Linked DNA regions of Homo sapiens. The protein of the gene in region 1 interacts with the protein of each later gene in a pairwise test. Each region holds a gene or a part of one and is shown on either strand. Other genes may lie near its edges.

What was found.
Region 2: the proteins of NEU4 (region 1) and PLSCR1 interact in a two-hybrid assay, tested with the Homo sapiens proteins (one large-scale study listed by BioGRID and IntAct).

The regions. Positions count from the first base shown.
Region 1 is NC_000002.12:241,812,094-241,815,275, forward strand, and holds part of NEU4 (sialidase-4), read left to right. Parts: intron 1-1,239; exon of another isoform or gene 1,240-1,420; intron 1,421-2,385; coding exon of another isoform or gene 2,386-2,391; coding exon 2,392-2,592; intron 2,593-2,798; coding exon 2,799-3,054; intron 3,055-3,182. UniProt on the Homo sapiens protein: Exo-alpha-sialidase that catalyzes the hydrolytic cleavage of the terminal sialic acid (N-acetylneuraminic acid, Neu5Ac) of a glycan moiety in the catabolism of glycolipids, glycoproteins and oligosacharides.
Region 2 is NC_000003.12:146,514,592-146,517,877, reverse strand, and holds the end of PLSCR1 (phospholipid scramblase 1), read left to right. Parts: intron 1-710; coding exon 711-872; intron 873-1,776; coding exon 1,777-1,833; 3' UTR 1,834-2,698; downstream 2,699-3,286. UniProt on the Homo sapiens protein: Catalyzes calcium-induced ATP-independent rapid bidirectional and non-specific movement of phospholipids (lipid scrambling or lipid flip-flop) between the inner and outer leaflet of the plasma membrane resulting in collapse of the phospholipid asymmetry which leads to phosphatidylserine externalization on the cell surface.

The DNA.
Region 1 (3,182 bases):
TGGACCCCAGAGGGTGTGTGCGGACCCCAGAGGGTGTGCGTGGAGGGCCTGGTCTGACCTCAAGGCTCTTGGGGCACCCACACAGGATGGGCTGTGAGGGGTTGGCGGGGGTGGGGGGGGTGGTCTGTGATGGCCCCCTGCTGAGCCAGAGTGACCCCTACAACCGGTCCAGGGGTCCACGGACCAGAAGGCCAGGTTCTCCTGGAGGTCCCATCTCCCCTGGGCCTCGGTTTCCCCTTCTGTGACTCCACACCCCCAAGGAGGGCCCTGTCAGGGAGGGCGGGGGGCACTGGTTAATGTCCAGGACATGGCTGTCCCAGTCAAGCCAAACCCCTGGAATGTGCTGAACTGGCTACACTGAGCGGGGCTGGCCTCCGAGACAGAGGGGCCTGCCGAGGACACGGAGGCTCTGTGGAACCCAGGGAACTGGTCACACTGAGGACACGGAGGCTCTGTGGAACCCAGGGCCTGGCCACACTGAGCACGGCTGGTCCCCCAAGACAGAGGGACCTCCTGAGGACACAGAGTCTCTGTGGAACCCAGGGCCTGGCCACATGGAGGACACGGAGGCTCTGTGGAACCCAGGGCCTGGCCGTGGCAAGGAAGCCCCAAGCCAAGTGTGTGTCAGCCTTGTCCTCTCTGTGGGCCTCAGTTTCCCCTCTGTGCAACAAGGGGAGTGACCAGCTGGTTTCTGGAGTCTCCTCCTCTCCCTCTCTGTCCCCAGGGGTGGGCCTGGGCCTCATGTCTGCAGGGGGTGCTGACACCTGCTCCTGTGGTCCGGGCCTTGGGGAGGGAGCCAAGTGCAGAGAGAATGTCTTGCTTGTGCCTGCTCAGCCCAGAGGGACACATGGCGTCTGCACCTGCTTCCCGCTTGGGCACAATTGCCCTTTGAGAGCAGAGCCAGGGGCTTCTTGGGGACGGAAGCTGCTCTCAGAAGCCGCGCACTGGTGGTGGGGGAGCGGCAGGAAGGGGCCGGCCAGCTGTCCTAGCCAAGAGCCTTTCAGGAACCGGTGGCCCAGGGCAGAGGTGGCTGGAGGTGGAGCTGTCTGTTTGGGCCTCAGGTGTCGGGGCAAGGCCTGCTTGGGTTTTACACGAGTGTTGCGCCTTTACCCGGGTCTCTGTCAGTGGGTCCCGCCTGACCCGTGGGTGTGCATGGGTCCCCGTCGTAGGCAGGCGTTCTGCCCTGGCCAGGCGTGGTGTCCGGCATCCGGCCATCTCCCTCCTCCCTCCTTCCCTTAGCCCCGCATCCAGGTGCCCCGTGTGCCCGGCCTGGGCGGCTGGCCGTGGATCTGACCGCTCCTGCATGGTGGAGGACCAGCGTTCCCACTGTCTGCAGCTGTGCCACCTCCCTGTGCCGGGCTGTGCGTGCTCACGCTCGGCTCCGTCTGCCTTTGTGCGATCAGACTGAGAGACCCCCCAGGCAGGTCCCGCCTGCAACAAGCAGACCCCATGCGTGCCCCAAATGCCCCCTCACCCGGGCCCTGCCCTGGTGGGTGTTGCCTGGGAGCAAACTCCCAGAATGGCCGCCGGGCCCCACTCGGCTTTGGAGCTTCTGATTCCTGTGGGCGCTTCTCAGGTCAGGGCCCTGCAGGTGGGAAGCACCAGGCACTGGAATGAGGGCACTGTGGGGCCAGCTGCCTGCAGGCAGGGGTCTGATCACCAAGCACCTGTCCCCTGCAGGATCCCTGGCTGTGGCTCCCCCGATGACGTTCAGGAAGTGGGAGCCGATCCCCTGTCCCCAGAGAGCCCCGTGACTCCCCCGATGACGTTCAGGAAGTGGGAGCCGATCCCCTGTCCCCAGAGAGCCCCGTGACTCCCCCGATGACGTTCAGGAAGTGGGAGCCGATCCCCTGTCCCCAGAGAGCCCCGTGGCTCCCACAGGTCCCTGTGGGCTCACCTCTTTGTGTCTCTGCTGTGGCTTCCACGGTGCTGTGGCCTCTATTCTGGGGACACTGAGCTCCTCCTTGCTCGAGGTTTTGGGTCCTCATTGTCCACATGACCTCCTGCTGGGCGAATTCTGGGATGACCCTGTGTCCTGGGCACATGGCTGGCAGGGTCCCGGGGGCTCTCTGGCCAGCCTCCCCTGCACCCTGGCACCAACCAGCCTGGCCGAGGGTCAGCTCCCAGAGCCGTGTTGAGAGGGGAAGGGGCTGATTCCACAGACATTTGGGGTGGAGTGGGTGCGAGGGAGGGTGGGGGAGGGGCTGCTCCAGATCTGGGGTGAGGGAGTCAGAAACAGGGCTGACCCCAAGGTGGGTACAGGAAGAGGCCCAGGTGTGGGCAGGAGCTGTCTGCACCTCCTGAGCGCATTCCCCAGTCCAGACCGGGAGCGAGTGTGGGGCTCCCTGGGCCTGTCTTGCTGACCTGTGGCCCTGTACTGACCAGCAGAGCATGGGGGTCCCTCGTACCCCTTCACGGACAGTGCTCTTCGAGCGGGAGAGGACGGGCCTGACCTACCGCGTGCCCTCGCTGCTCCCCGTGCCCCCCGGGCCCACCCTGCTGGCCTTTGTGGAGCAGCGGCTCAGCCCTGACGACTCCCACGCCCACCGCCTGGTGCTGAGGAGGGGCACGCTGGCCGGGGGCTCCGTGCGGGTGAGTGAGTGGCCGGGGGCTCTGTGTGGGTGTAGTGGCCGGATCTGCTGGGGCTGCACACCCCGGGATGGGGCGGGGGTGGCGGCGGCAGGCAGATGCCCGAGGTAGAGATGAGCAAACCAGGCTCAGCGATCCTGGGTGCCCTGCGGGGGGCTGTGCCCAGGTCCCTGGACGTCCTGGTCAGCGGAACTTCCTCCTCTGGGCAGTGGGGTGCCCTGCACGTGCTGGGGACAGCAGCCCTGGCGGAGCACCGGTCCATGAACCCCTGCCCTGTGCACGATGCTGGCACGGGCACCGTCTTCCTCTTCTTCATCGCGGTGCTGGGCCACACGCCTGAGGCCGTGCAGATCGCCACGGGAAGGAACGCCGCGCGCCTCTGCTGTGTGGCCAGCCGTGACGCCGGCCTCTCGTGGGGCAGCGCCCGGGACCTCACCGAGGAGGCCATCGGTGGTGCCGTGCAGGGTAGGCGGGCAGGGTGCCGGTCTGGGTCCCTTTGATTGGCCACGGTCCACATGGAAGGGAGATTCCAGCGGGAAATTGCCATTCTGCCCCACCCCTGTCTCCAGCCACAAGGGAACCAACCATCCCTT
Region 2 (3,286 bases), on another chromosome or scaffold:
TTGCCTTAGTCTGAGCAAAGTCCATTCAACCCTATATGATGGCCCTGGGCTTTCCTCAGGCAGAATTGTAAAATTAGGAAACTTCTACTTCGGAGCTCATTTGTTCATACACTCTTCATCTTTTATTCACACCCCACTAGTTATCCACTCTCAACCTCAACCCTTGGCGTGGGGCATTTCATCAAGTTACTTATTGGTATTTGCCTTTACTCCAAACTGCTAATCTTTTCTAGGTGCTTAGCATTTCATGTTTGGCAACTCACAGTGGGTAGTAATAAGCCTTTTCATCATATTTAATCTTTCAGTCTGTGTAAACTGTGCTTCTCCTAAAGCAGAAGTCTAATAGGAGTTTTGTTCATTAACTTCCTGATGGCTTCTAGAAATGTCATCAAAGAAACATTTCATATTTATATCCTTTTTTGCTTAAATTTTCTTTTGGGTCAATTCAAATAATTTATTAATGTCTATATTAATATAAAATAGAAATTGTTAAATATTTCAGGAAAACTTTCTGAAATATAATTTCTCCGTACAATGAAACAGTTTTTTTCATATATCTATAAATAGATACAGGAGCCTCCAGTTATCTAATGAGGGTTACATATGGTGCATAATTTTAATACCATATTTGTTTCATCTTACTTCAAATTTGAAAGTACTTTTGCTATAAGTTTCCTAAAAGTATTTAATACTTTTTTTTTTCAATTTAGATTAAATCTCTTGATGAACAGTGTGTGGTTGGCAAAATTTCCAAGCACTGGACTGGAATTTTGAGAGAGGCATTTACAGACGCTGATAACTTTGGAATCCAGTTCCCTTTAGACCTTGATGTTAAAATGAAAGCTGTAATGATTGGTGCCTGTTTCCTCATTGTAAGTCTGTTCTTATTAATCTTGATTATAGATGCTTTCTCTAGGTTCATTCTGAAATGATTCAGTAAAGTGTATATTTCAAAATGACATTTTAAAATTTATAGATTTTAAATCAGGATTCCCATTTAATCCTAGCTCTGAAATTCTATTTGATCCTGACACTCTGGGGTCACAGGTGACTAGTTTCTACCTGAAGAGTCTATGAATATTCACATGGCAAGAGGGGGACTAAGGAGATGTACTAAGGAGAGATTTTAGTCTCCCCTTAAATCAGGCATCTCCTAGATGCTTTGAGGAAGAAGTTGAAAGTAGGCATATGTGGAAAAAATTTAGTGAAACAAGGAAACTTTACCATGACTCATAGTAATTAAATTAAACCATCTAATATAGGAGTATGAAGTACAATAAGAGTGTACATTCACTCAAGTGTGTAGACCTAACTACCAAATTACAGGAAATAATTGGATATACCAGTGATTCTGAAATTGCCTTCACATTAGAACCACCTAGGGACTTTAAAAACTCCAAGGACTAGTCCATACCTCAGTTCAACTAAATCAGAAACTTCGAAGTTCATATAGTGTTCCAGGTGATTCCAGTATGCAGCCAAAGATGAGAATTATGGGGATAGAGAAAAAGTAACATTTAGAGAAAATGACTGGAAGATTAATTAAATTCATACAGGTATCAATAAATGAATAGAATTATAGAATTTATTATTAAAATGGAAAGCCAAAGGCAGAACTTATATAATTATAGAGCTTTTGTATATTTACTTATTACATTTAATTTTTTTAACAGATTTGTTACTGTGTTTCACTAGATCCCTTAGTATTTCTGCATCTGATAATTGATCTCTGTTTTGTTGTTGAAAATTCATTTGTATACTTTTGTTTTTATCTAGGACTTCATGTTTTTTGAAAGCACTGGCAGCCAGGAACAAAAATCAGGAGTGTGGTAGTGGATTAGTGAAAGTCTCCTCAGGAAATCTGAAGTCTGTATATTGATTGAGACTATCTAAACTCATACCTGTATGAATTAAGCTGTAAGGCCTGTAGCTCTGGTTGTATACTTTTGCTTTTCAAATTATAGTTTATCTTCTGTATAACTGATTTATAAAGGTTTTTGTACATTTTTTAATACTCATTGTCAATTTGAGAAAAAGGACATATGAGTTTTTGCATTTATTAATGAAACTTCCTTTGAAAAACTGCTTTGAATTATGATCTCTGATTCATTGTCCATTTTACTACCAAATATTAACTAAGGCCTTATTAATTTTTATATAAATTATATCTTGTCCTATTAAATCTAGTTACAATTTATTTCATGCATAAGAGCTAATGTTATTTTGCAAATGCCATATATTCAAAAAAGCTCAAAGATAATTTTCTTTACTATTATGTTCAAATAATATTCAATATGCATATTATCTTTAAAAAGTTAAATGTTTTTTTAATCTTCAAGAAATCATGCTACACTTAACTTCTCCTAGAAGCTAATCTATACCATAATATTTTCATATTCACAAGATATTAAATTACCAATTTTCAAATTATTGTTAGTAAAGAACAAAATGATTCTCTCCCAAAGAAAGACACATTTTAAATACTCCTTCACTCTAAAACTCTGGTATTATAACTTTTGAAAGTTAATATTTCTACATGAAATGTTTAGCTCTTACACTCTATCCTTCCTAGAAAATGGTAATTGAGATTACTCAGATATTAATTAAATACAATATCATATATATATTCACAGAGTATAAACCTAAATAATGATCTATTAGATTCAAATATTTGAAATAAAAACTTGATTTTTTTGTATATTTGATTTTTGTTTTTAAACGAAATGTGTTCAGATGGTATTTTGAGCACTCATTCAGTTAAATGATGGTACATTTGAAGCAGGATATTTCCCTGACCCCTTCACAGGACTCGAGACAGGGGTGCCTTGTTTACTCAGCCTGCCATTCTCAACTCCTCCTGGGAGGGAGTGCACAGGCAAACAAGGCAGGAACTGGAGTGTACAAGCACTGGAACTGGCTGGCCGCTTTGGCATGGGCAGGAACAAACTGTGCAGGCCCTGTGGTAGCATCCAGGTGGGGTTGCCTGCGATTCCTGAAGCCCCAGAAGATGTGTTAACAGTGCTCTTTTAGCTCTGCTGTCTGTGGACGGCTTAAGTGTTAACAGCTCAGTGGGCCCTTTGCCTTGTCATGTGGGACAGCTGCCCTCCACCAGCAAGGGCAAATGGCGAATGTGAGAGCCTTTTATATCGGCACTCATGGCTCCCAGGCTCTTGTCCGGTGTCCAGGAAAAATGTGGTCACAAAAACAAACTGAAGGATGGTAAATGAGGGGGATTTTATTGCTGATGAAAGTGGCTCTCAGTGAGAAAGGGAGCTGAAAAGGGGAC